Linked DNA regions of Homo sapiens: all the other regions are linked to region 1. The links come from fine-mapping of genetic effects on gene expression. A gene starts in region 1. Each other region holds a variant in brackets. All regions are shown on one strand. Distances are between the middles of the regions.

Region 1 (2,767 bases):
ATTGCCTTTTGGTAATTTCAAAACTGTAGACAAAAGACTGAGACCGCTGATTTATTAAAATGTAATAAATACAGAATACATACAAAGCAATCAGTGTGGCTTCAAACCTGGGTCCTCTTCTAGCAGGTGCATGTACCTGAAGCTCAACTAGTGGCATGCCCAGCTACCCAGACAGAAGAAATAAGGTCAAATGTCAAGGTGTTTCCCTCTCCACAACAGATAATTCTGGTCATAACAGCTCTCTGGAGGTATGAATGAAGGCTGGGATAACACATCTCAGGATTCTTTCCTGTTTTATGATTCTAAAACTGACAGCAGAACCAGAATGCACTGGTTATAAAACAGGGTTTCCTCTGGCGTCACAAGCATTTCTGCCCTATCTATCTTGCCAGCTCATACGTGCTGTTCGGATATTTGGAATGCCCGGTGAGGTGAGAAAACATTTTAAAAGCTAGCTCTTCAGCAAATGACACTATTTAGTCAAACAGAGAAAACTCGAGACCATTTCTAAACTCACCCCTCCAGGCTTTCAAGACTTTACAACCCAGGCCACCGCCCAGGCAGAGTGCCCCGCCCTGGATCGCCCATACCTGCGTCTGGGACCTTCTGGGTTCCACCACTCGGACTCCCGATGCCCCAGCCCGGCAGCCCGACCCCCCGATCCCCCAGCTTCACGGCCCAACTCCCCCTCCAGCCAGATTTACCTCAGGCCTGGCGTGCTCCGGCCGGCTCGGATCTTCTGCACCCGCAAGGGGAGGCCTAGGAGACAGCTCAAGGCCGTAGAGACTCTCAGGATCTGGCCGCCCTGCAAAGGTTGGGGTACAGGGAGAAGAGAAGTAAGCACACCGGTGGTGAGAGCTCCCCTCCTTAGTTAGGCTGCAGCCCCGGCCGCTTCGCTCTGTACTCACCCCTTCCATGATGCTGCCATCGACCTCCACCCGCGGCCCCGCCATGGGGGACACCCTGGGGCCCAGCCCGCAGCGACAAAGCCTCCGCCAGAGCGGGAGAAAGAAGAGACGTTGGCTCCCGCCCAGTAGTTCAGAAACCTTGGTTCATGCCTGGGGCGCAGGAGCCTGACGAGAAAGCGGAAGAAGCGGCGCCTCTCGGGACACTGGAGTCAGCAGAAACGAACCCCCGGGTTCGCCCAGTTCCGCAGTCAGTGCGCATGCGCGTAGCTCGGCTTAAAGGAGCCGCGCTGGGAACACTGCGGTCGGGGCGAGGAAGCTGCCGGGGAAGTGAGATGACGGTCGCGGGGGTGCCCAGGAGCCCTGAAAAACTTGTGCCCTGGGCACGGCAAAATCTGCAGGTTGCAGAAAGTCTCAACTGTAAGATAACTCCTCCAGTTATCCCGCAGGCTTGTGCTTTATCTCTGTTTTGTGGGTAAATATGTGTTTATATCTGTTTTCTCGAGGATCCTGGCATACCCCGAGGTGCCGACTTTTAGAGCTGAAGATGCAAGAAAGATTGGGATCCTGCGATGCACCGAACCTGTCTCTCGAAGTGTGTGCGCCCTGGTACATTGATACTCTTGGCCTTTGGTTCCTTGCGGTGTGCGTGTTTGTGTATGCGGAGTGTGTTATCTTTCTTTCTAGGGTGACACACCATTTATTTGAGAGGCGGGAAAGGCAGAATCACTAGTTTAATATTCTGAAAAGCCAAAGTTATGCCATTTTGCTTGAGAGTGAGTGCAAGCTCTTGACTCCCAGGAACAGTGCAGCTAACAATTCACCTCAGGCGAGGGCAGAAGCAATAGCCAGCTTCTTGGTTCTGCCTGTGGCTCAGTTCCTACATAATTGAGTACCAAATAATATGTAAACCTCTAGGGAAGCAAAAAAGAGTAATTCAGCTTCTACCCCCGAAGTTATTGGAGGTATAATGGAGAGACTGAGACGTAATCAATTACAATGTCATCCTCAATAATAATTAACATGTACTGTATTTAGAGTTTATTATGGGGACAATTACAATATATTAATAATATACTGTAACAATAACAGGCAACACTTATTGAGCACTTAGGTGTTGTGCACTGCATGCATTCATAACATGATAAAGTACTTACTGTTTTTACTGTTTTACAGCTTCCTGTGTTAAACAATTTGCTACAAGGTCACACAATTTTAACTAGAAGACTGAGATGTGAACCTGGGTGGTCTGATGTGAACACCACTGTCTGGTAATCCCAACGCTCTGCTGCTTTGCGACAGAGAATGTTTTAGGGAACACACAGACTATGTACTTAACCAAATCTGGAATTTGCCGTAAGATATTAATCAGAGAAGTAATGATACTTGCATTTTAAAATGAAGGCTTTGGCAGTAGGAGAAGGGTGAATAAGAGGCTTAAGAGCCTGAAGGGAGAAATGCCAATGATACAATTATCCAGCAAGAAATAATCAGAAGTTGAAGTAAGGCAATGATGGTAGGGATGGAATATAAAAAAGCTGTACCCCTATCTGACATCTTTATTGGGGGAACCCGCCCCCAATATTTCAACGTAGGTTCTTTCTATTTTCCATAAGTGTTGGCCAGCTGAGAAATAAAGAGAGACAGTATAAAGAGAGGAATTTTACAGCTGAGCCACCGGGGGTGACATCACATATCGGTAGGACCATGATGCCCGCCTGAGTCTCAGACCAGCAAGTTTTTATTAAGGGTTTCAAAAGGGGAGGGGGTGTAAGAACAGGGAGTAGGTACAAAAGTACAAAGATCACATGCTTCAAAAGGCAAAAAGACCTTACTACTAGTAAGGGTCTAACAAAGATCAC
Region 2 (2,767 bases), 24 kb after region 1:
TAAGCGTGGTGGTTTATGCTGCCCCGACCCATGAATAGTTCAATACGAGTTGTGTTGTTGTTGAAGGTAAGACCTTCTAGTAGTTTAATTTTCTTTCAAATGTTTTACAAATATGAACAATTTTATTTAAATTAAGGTGAATCTATATACTTCAAAACTTTCCTTTATTGTCCCTAAGTTTTATGTCTGATGAAACAGAGGTTGATTCACTCCTTTGATTTTATTGTTGACCAAGAGTCAGGATTATGGGAGCTGAAGGAGAAAGCAAGGACAAACAAAATGGAAATGTTTGGGAAAGAGAATTCTTTTATTGTCTTCTGGTTTTAAGTTATCAATTTTAATTATTTTAGTTAGGCTTTATATTTCCTGAATATTAATGTTAGTAAAAATAAAATGTTGATATTATAAAGACTAGTCGATTTAGGGTGATCTCTAAAGTTAAGATGAATGATTTAAGATTATTTATGTTTTAGGAAAGGGATCTTCAGTTTTTCTTTGCCTTCAGAAATCAGTAATAGTTTGAAATTTAAAGTAAAAAAATAAGAATTTAAATGTATTGTTCTTGTCAGTAAACCAAACTTTTACTTTTATATTTGCTATCAGAAAAAAACAAAAATTCTAGTTTATAAATATGTATTAAAACATGACTGTACTATATGATGTTTATTATAACATAGCCTTTAAAAGTTAAGAGCTAATCACCACTAATGTACATGATTTTTTTTTTTAAGTAAAAGTGACTCTGTTACATACATGAAAAAGTTTCACTTATCAGTATTCTTATACTAAGAAGGTTAGAAATTTCTGCAGAGAAGTAAGCTCAGGGCTTTAAAATTAAATAAGTAAATAAATTCTGTAGTTTATGTTTACAGTATGATGTAGTTAAGTATTAATAGCATTGAAATTTTTTTTTTTTTGAGATGGAGTCTTGCTCTGTCACCAGGCTGGAGTGCAGTGGCTCGATCCCGGCTCACTGCAACCTCTGCCTCCCGCATTCAAGCGATTCTCCTGCCTCAGCCTCCCAAGTAGCTGGGACTACAGGCGCATGCCACCAAGCCCAGCTAATTCTTTTGTATTGTTAGTAGAGACAGGGTTTCACCATATCGGCCAGGCTGGTCTCTTTAACTCCCTACCTCGTGATCTGCCCACCTTGGCCTCCCAAAGTGCTGGGATTACAGGCGTGAGCCACCGCGCCT[G/A]GCCTAATGGCATTGAAATATTAACTTTCCAAATAAGATATTATGGCCTGGCATGGTGGCTCGCACCTGTAATTCTAGCACTTTGGGAGGCTGAGGTGGGAGGATTGCTTGAGCTCAGGACTTCAAGTCCAGCCTGGGCAACATACTGAGACCTTGTCTCTACAAATAATAAACAAAATTAATTGGGTGGGGTAGCATGCGCCTGTGGTCCCAGATACTTGGAAGGCTGAGGCAGGAGGACCCCTTGAGCCTAGAAGGTCAAGGCTTCAGTGAACTGTGATCGCACCACTGCACTCCAGCCTGGGCAACAGAGTGAGACCATGTCTCAAATACACACACACACACACACACACACACACACACACACACACACAATACCTTTCAGACACTTAGGTTTTGATATATAGAGTTGAATACATTTGGGCCTACTTATTTCTATAAGAGATTTTAAAATAATATTATACTAAGGTACTATGTAAAATAGTTAATTCTAAAGAGTCATCTATAAGTTACTATAAGTAAACTTTGGGGTATCATACTATACAAGTTTTTCATTGTTTTTAGATGCTAACTATTACTTTAGAATTCTTTAGTAGTTTTAGTTCAGGAAGTCCAATGACTTAAGCATACCTATAAGCTGATGTATTTATACAGAATACACTGTTAAAATGTCTTTACTTTCAGAAGGAATTTTGGGTAAGGATCATAAATGTAACAAATCTAAATCTAAGGATATAATATTTCTATTGTGACAATGGTTCTACTTTTAGAATGGAATTGAAATTCAATTTATACTTAGAGATAAGCCGGTATGGTTGTTTATAAATGCTTTTACTTTTTGTTTTCTCATCTGTAGATTTGTGTTCGCTATTTTCAAACATGTGGTAATGTTCATGTTTTGAAGCCAAATTATGTGTGTTTCTTTGGTTATCCTTCATTCAAGTATAGTCATCCACATCACTTCCTGAAAACAACTGCTGGTAAGTATGATTTCAAAATAACGTGTATAAAATAATGTTTTGTACCTCATTCAGTAATATTTTTTAGTAGTTGATTGAGACTTTTTAAACAAAAAAAAGTTGACTCTGTATTTCTAGCCGGGCCCTTCCCATCTCCCCACATTTTTCCAGTTCTCACTTTCTTTTTTCTCATCCCTCTCTTTTACATACTTTCCTTAACACTGGCACCCCTTTTTAAAAAAAATTTTTTTTTAGAGACAGGATCTCACTCAGTTGCCCAGATTGGAGTGCAGTGGTGTAATCACAGCTCACTATAACCTGAACTCCTGGGCTCAAGTGATCCTTCTGCCTCAGCTTCTCAAAGAGCTGGGATTACAGGCATTAACTTATCTCGCCCAGCACTTGTGTCTTTATAATATTGGGAATGGGTTGTGTTGGGCCATCTATTTATCATCTGGCTCATCTAAGTGCAATAGTCAGCATTGATATGACTTTCTCAGTCAAGGTAAATTGTTGACTTAATAGAGGTGTCTTTGTGTTGGCATACACATTGTGGTATTGTTTGTTGAAAGAAGCACTTAATCTGTCAAGTGAACATGGTGTGATGAAACC
Region 3 (2,767 bases), 22 kb before region 1:
AAGTAAAGAATATAATGAATAAAACCTGATCTCTGCTATTAAGGAGATCAATCTATAAGGAGAGACAGACAAGTAATAGTTATAAATACAGCATAAGTAGAGTAACAAAAAAAATAGAGTTAACACTCTTGACATCAAATACAATTTGCCTTTAATTCCCATCAGTCTTTCCTACAATTTAACAAAAACTTATCTATGTTTCTTAATAACAATTAAAAGTATACATAATTAAGAATCAAACTGGGCACAGTAGCTCACAGCTGTAATCACGGCATTTGGGAAGCTGAGGTGGGAGGATCACTTGAGCCCAGGAGTTCAGGACCAGCCTGGGCAACACAGGGAGATCCCGTCTCTCAAAAAACAAAAACAAAAACAAAAAAAAAATTAGCAGGGTGTGGTGGTGCACAGCTGCAGTCCTAGCTACTTGATAGGCTGAGGTGAAAGGATCACTTGAGCCCAGGAGTTCGGGGCTACTGTGAGCTATGATACTGCCATTGTAATCTAGCCTGGGCAACAGAGCAAGCCCCTGTCTCTTAAAAGAAAAAAAAAAAAGAAAGGCCAGGCGCGGTGGCTCATGCCTGTAATCCCTGCACTTTGGGAGGCCAAGGCAGGCAGATCGCGTAAGGCCAGGAGTTTGAGACCAGCCTAGCTAACACAGTGAAACCCTGTCTCTGCTAAAAAGTACAAAAATTAGCTGGACATGGTGGCACACGCCTGTAATCCCAGCTACTCTGGAGGCTGAGGCATGAGAATTGCTTGAACCTGGGAGGCAGAGGTTGCTGTGAGCCAAGACTGTGCCACTGCACTCCAACCTGGGCTAACAGAGCAAGACTCTATCTTAAGAAAAAAAAAAAGAAAAGAAAAAGGATCATCATACAAATAGGAGTAGGGCAGCAACAGTGGTTTTGTGTATGGGACACTTCTGTAATGATTAATTTTTTAAATTAATATATGTTACTTTTGTCACTTTAAAAAATGCTTAAGACTAGGGCTGGGCATGCTGGCTTACACCTGTAATCCTAGCGCTTTGGGAGATTGAGGTCAGAGGACTGCTTGAGCCCAGGAGTTCAAGACCAGCCTGGGAATGTGGCAAGACTCCATCTCTACAAAACATCAAAAAATTAGCCAGGTGTGGTGGCACACTC[C/T]CGTAGCCCCAGCTACTTGGGAGGCTGCGGTGGGAGGATCATTTGAGAGCCCAGGAGGTTTGTGCCACTGCAATCCAGCCTGGGCAACAGTGTGAGACCCTGTCTCAAAAACAATAATAATAAAAATGCTTAAGATTAGCAACTTCCCTTATAAAATTGTTACAAATTTTATATTTCTTTATAAAATTACTTTATAAAGAATAAGCAAAATGGGAAATATGCTACATGTTACTGAAATAAGCAAGAAATGAAGTTGTATGCATTAACTGCAAAAAATGCAAAGAGAAACGATTTAGGAGAAGAGGAAAACACCTAAATGTCAACAGTGGTTTTACCGGCAAGGGGAAATTATGAGAAGGCTTTTCCCCTCTATTTCCTATAAAGAAATTACATTAGTTTCATGATGAAATATACCTATTGTTTCTTTAAATTAACAATCCAGGCCAGGCACAGTGGCTCACACCTATAATCACAACACTTTGGGAGGCCAAGGTGGACAGATCACCTGAGCTATGAAGTTTGAGACCAGCCTAAGCAACATGGCAAAACCCCATCTCTACAAAAATTAGAAAAATTAGCCAGGTGTGGTGGCATGTGCCTGTAATCCTAGCTACTTGGGAGGCTAAGGCAGGAGAATCACTTGAGCCTGGGAGGCAGAAGTTGCAGTGAGCCGAGATCATGCCATTGCACTCCAGCCTGGGCAACAGTGTGAGACCCTGTCTCAAAAAAAAAAAAAAAAAGAATCCTGTAGGAAAGGTATGAATATGAGCTCATATAATGATAAATCCTTCTTCATTAAAAACTGTACGTCAACTCTACTAAATTTCAGAGGACAGTGAATATTAGTTTCAACAAATATTCTATTTTACCAATAGAATCAAGAAAATAAAATGTCTAAAATTTTATATAAATTTTTTTATAGCCAACTATGAATCCCTTGTGATTTGATATCATAGTTCACAACAAAACATCTTTACTTACTCTGTAAGGCAGTACCACACAGTGATTATAACATGGGTTTTGAAGTATGCTTTCCCAGGTTTGCTCAAAGCTCAGCTCTGCCACTAAAAATCCATGTGGCCTTGAACAATTTAATGAATCTCTCTGCCTCACTTTACTCATATTTATAATGGGAATAATAATAAATAGCCACCTACAATAGTTATGCTGAGTAGACAGTTTAGATAAATTGCTAAATTAGCTCAGTGCCTGTCACACAGGAAACAGTGATAGCAATTATGATTACTATTAAGTTTCCTATTAAAATTTAACCCAAAATTGGCTAAAATAAAAATCAAAATATCAATTTCCCTTTCTGATAGAATACTCACCTTTGCTATTTGTTCAGCAAAATGTATCGCGGTTTGCGTATGGAGTGTAACTGGTCCTGTTTTTATTCTGGAAACTCCATTGGCTAATGCCATGAAAACAATCAGCTATTTAAAAAAGAACAAAGAAAAACCTCACACATTTATTAATATTTGGCATTATAATTCCACTGCTGCCCATAATAAAAATACTACTAGAAATAAAAATTGCTAAAACAGAATTTCTATTTCTTTAGGTTTCCAGACATACTCAGAAGATGACAGAAAACCTATGTTACCCTAAGTCTGTGAGTA

Alleles and levels. Alleles are on the strand shown, and positions count from the first base shown. SD is a standard deviation of normalised expression in the study named. Not every link is listed here.
As copies of T replace C in region 3, the expression in adrenal gland of the gene that starts at base 1,155 in region 1 goes down (moderate effect, 0.62 SD a copy in GTEx).

The links. PIP is the estimated chance that this variant, and not a neighbour inherited with it, causes the effect. A credible set is the group of variants that fine-mapping cannot tell apart.
Region 2: its variant is the best candidate, but not a certain one, in a credible set for the expression of RTCA-AS1 in atrial appendage (GTEx, PIP 0.67).
Region 3: its variant is the best candidate, but not a certain one, in a credible set for the expression of RTCA-AS1 in adrenal gland (GTEx, PIP 0.51).

Annotation. Positions count from the first base shown.
Region 1 is chr1:100,264,562-100,267,328 of GRCh38, reverse strand. It overlaps RTCA-AS1 (RTCA antisense RNA 1), which reads left to right and starts at 1,155. Exons shown (of 3, transcript NR_110435.1): 1 at 1,155-1,325; 2 at 1,412-1,500; 3 at 2,082-2,587. It overlaps RTCA (RNA 3'-terminal phosphate cyclase), which reads right to left and starts at 1,113. Exons shown (of 11, transcript NM_003729.4): 1 at 909-1,113; 2 at 705-805. The coding sequence starts at 953. RefSeq lists enhancers at 945-1,304, 873-1,422.
Region 2 is chr1:100,240,170-100,242,936 of GRCh38, reverse strand. It overlaps DBT (dihydrolipoamide branched chain transacylase E2), which reads left to right. Exons shown (of 11, transcript NM_001918.5): 2 at 2,053-2,176. Among named protein-coding and RNA genes, the nearest start is that of DBT, 8.3 kb to the left of the region's middle. The variant G/A (reference allele first, on the strand shown) is at 1,197.
Region 3 is chr1:100,286,913-100,289,679 of GRCh38, reverse strand. It overlaps RTCA (RNA 3'-terminal phosphate cyclase), which reads right to left. Exons shown (of 11, transcript NM_003729.4): 10 at 2,477-2,581. Among named protein-coding and RNA genes, the nearest start is that of MIR553, 7.1 kb to the right of the region's middle. The variant C/T (reference allele first, on the strand shown) is at 1,146.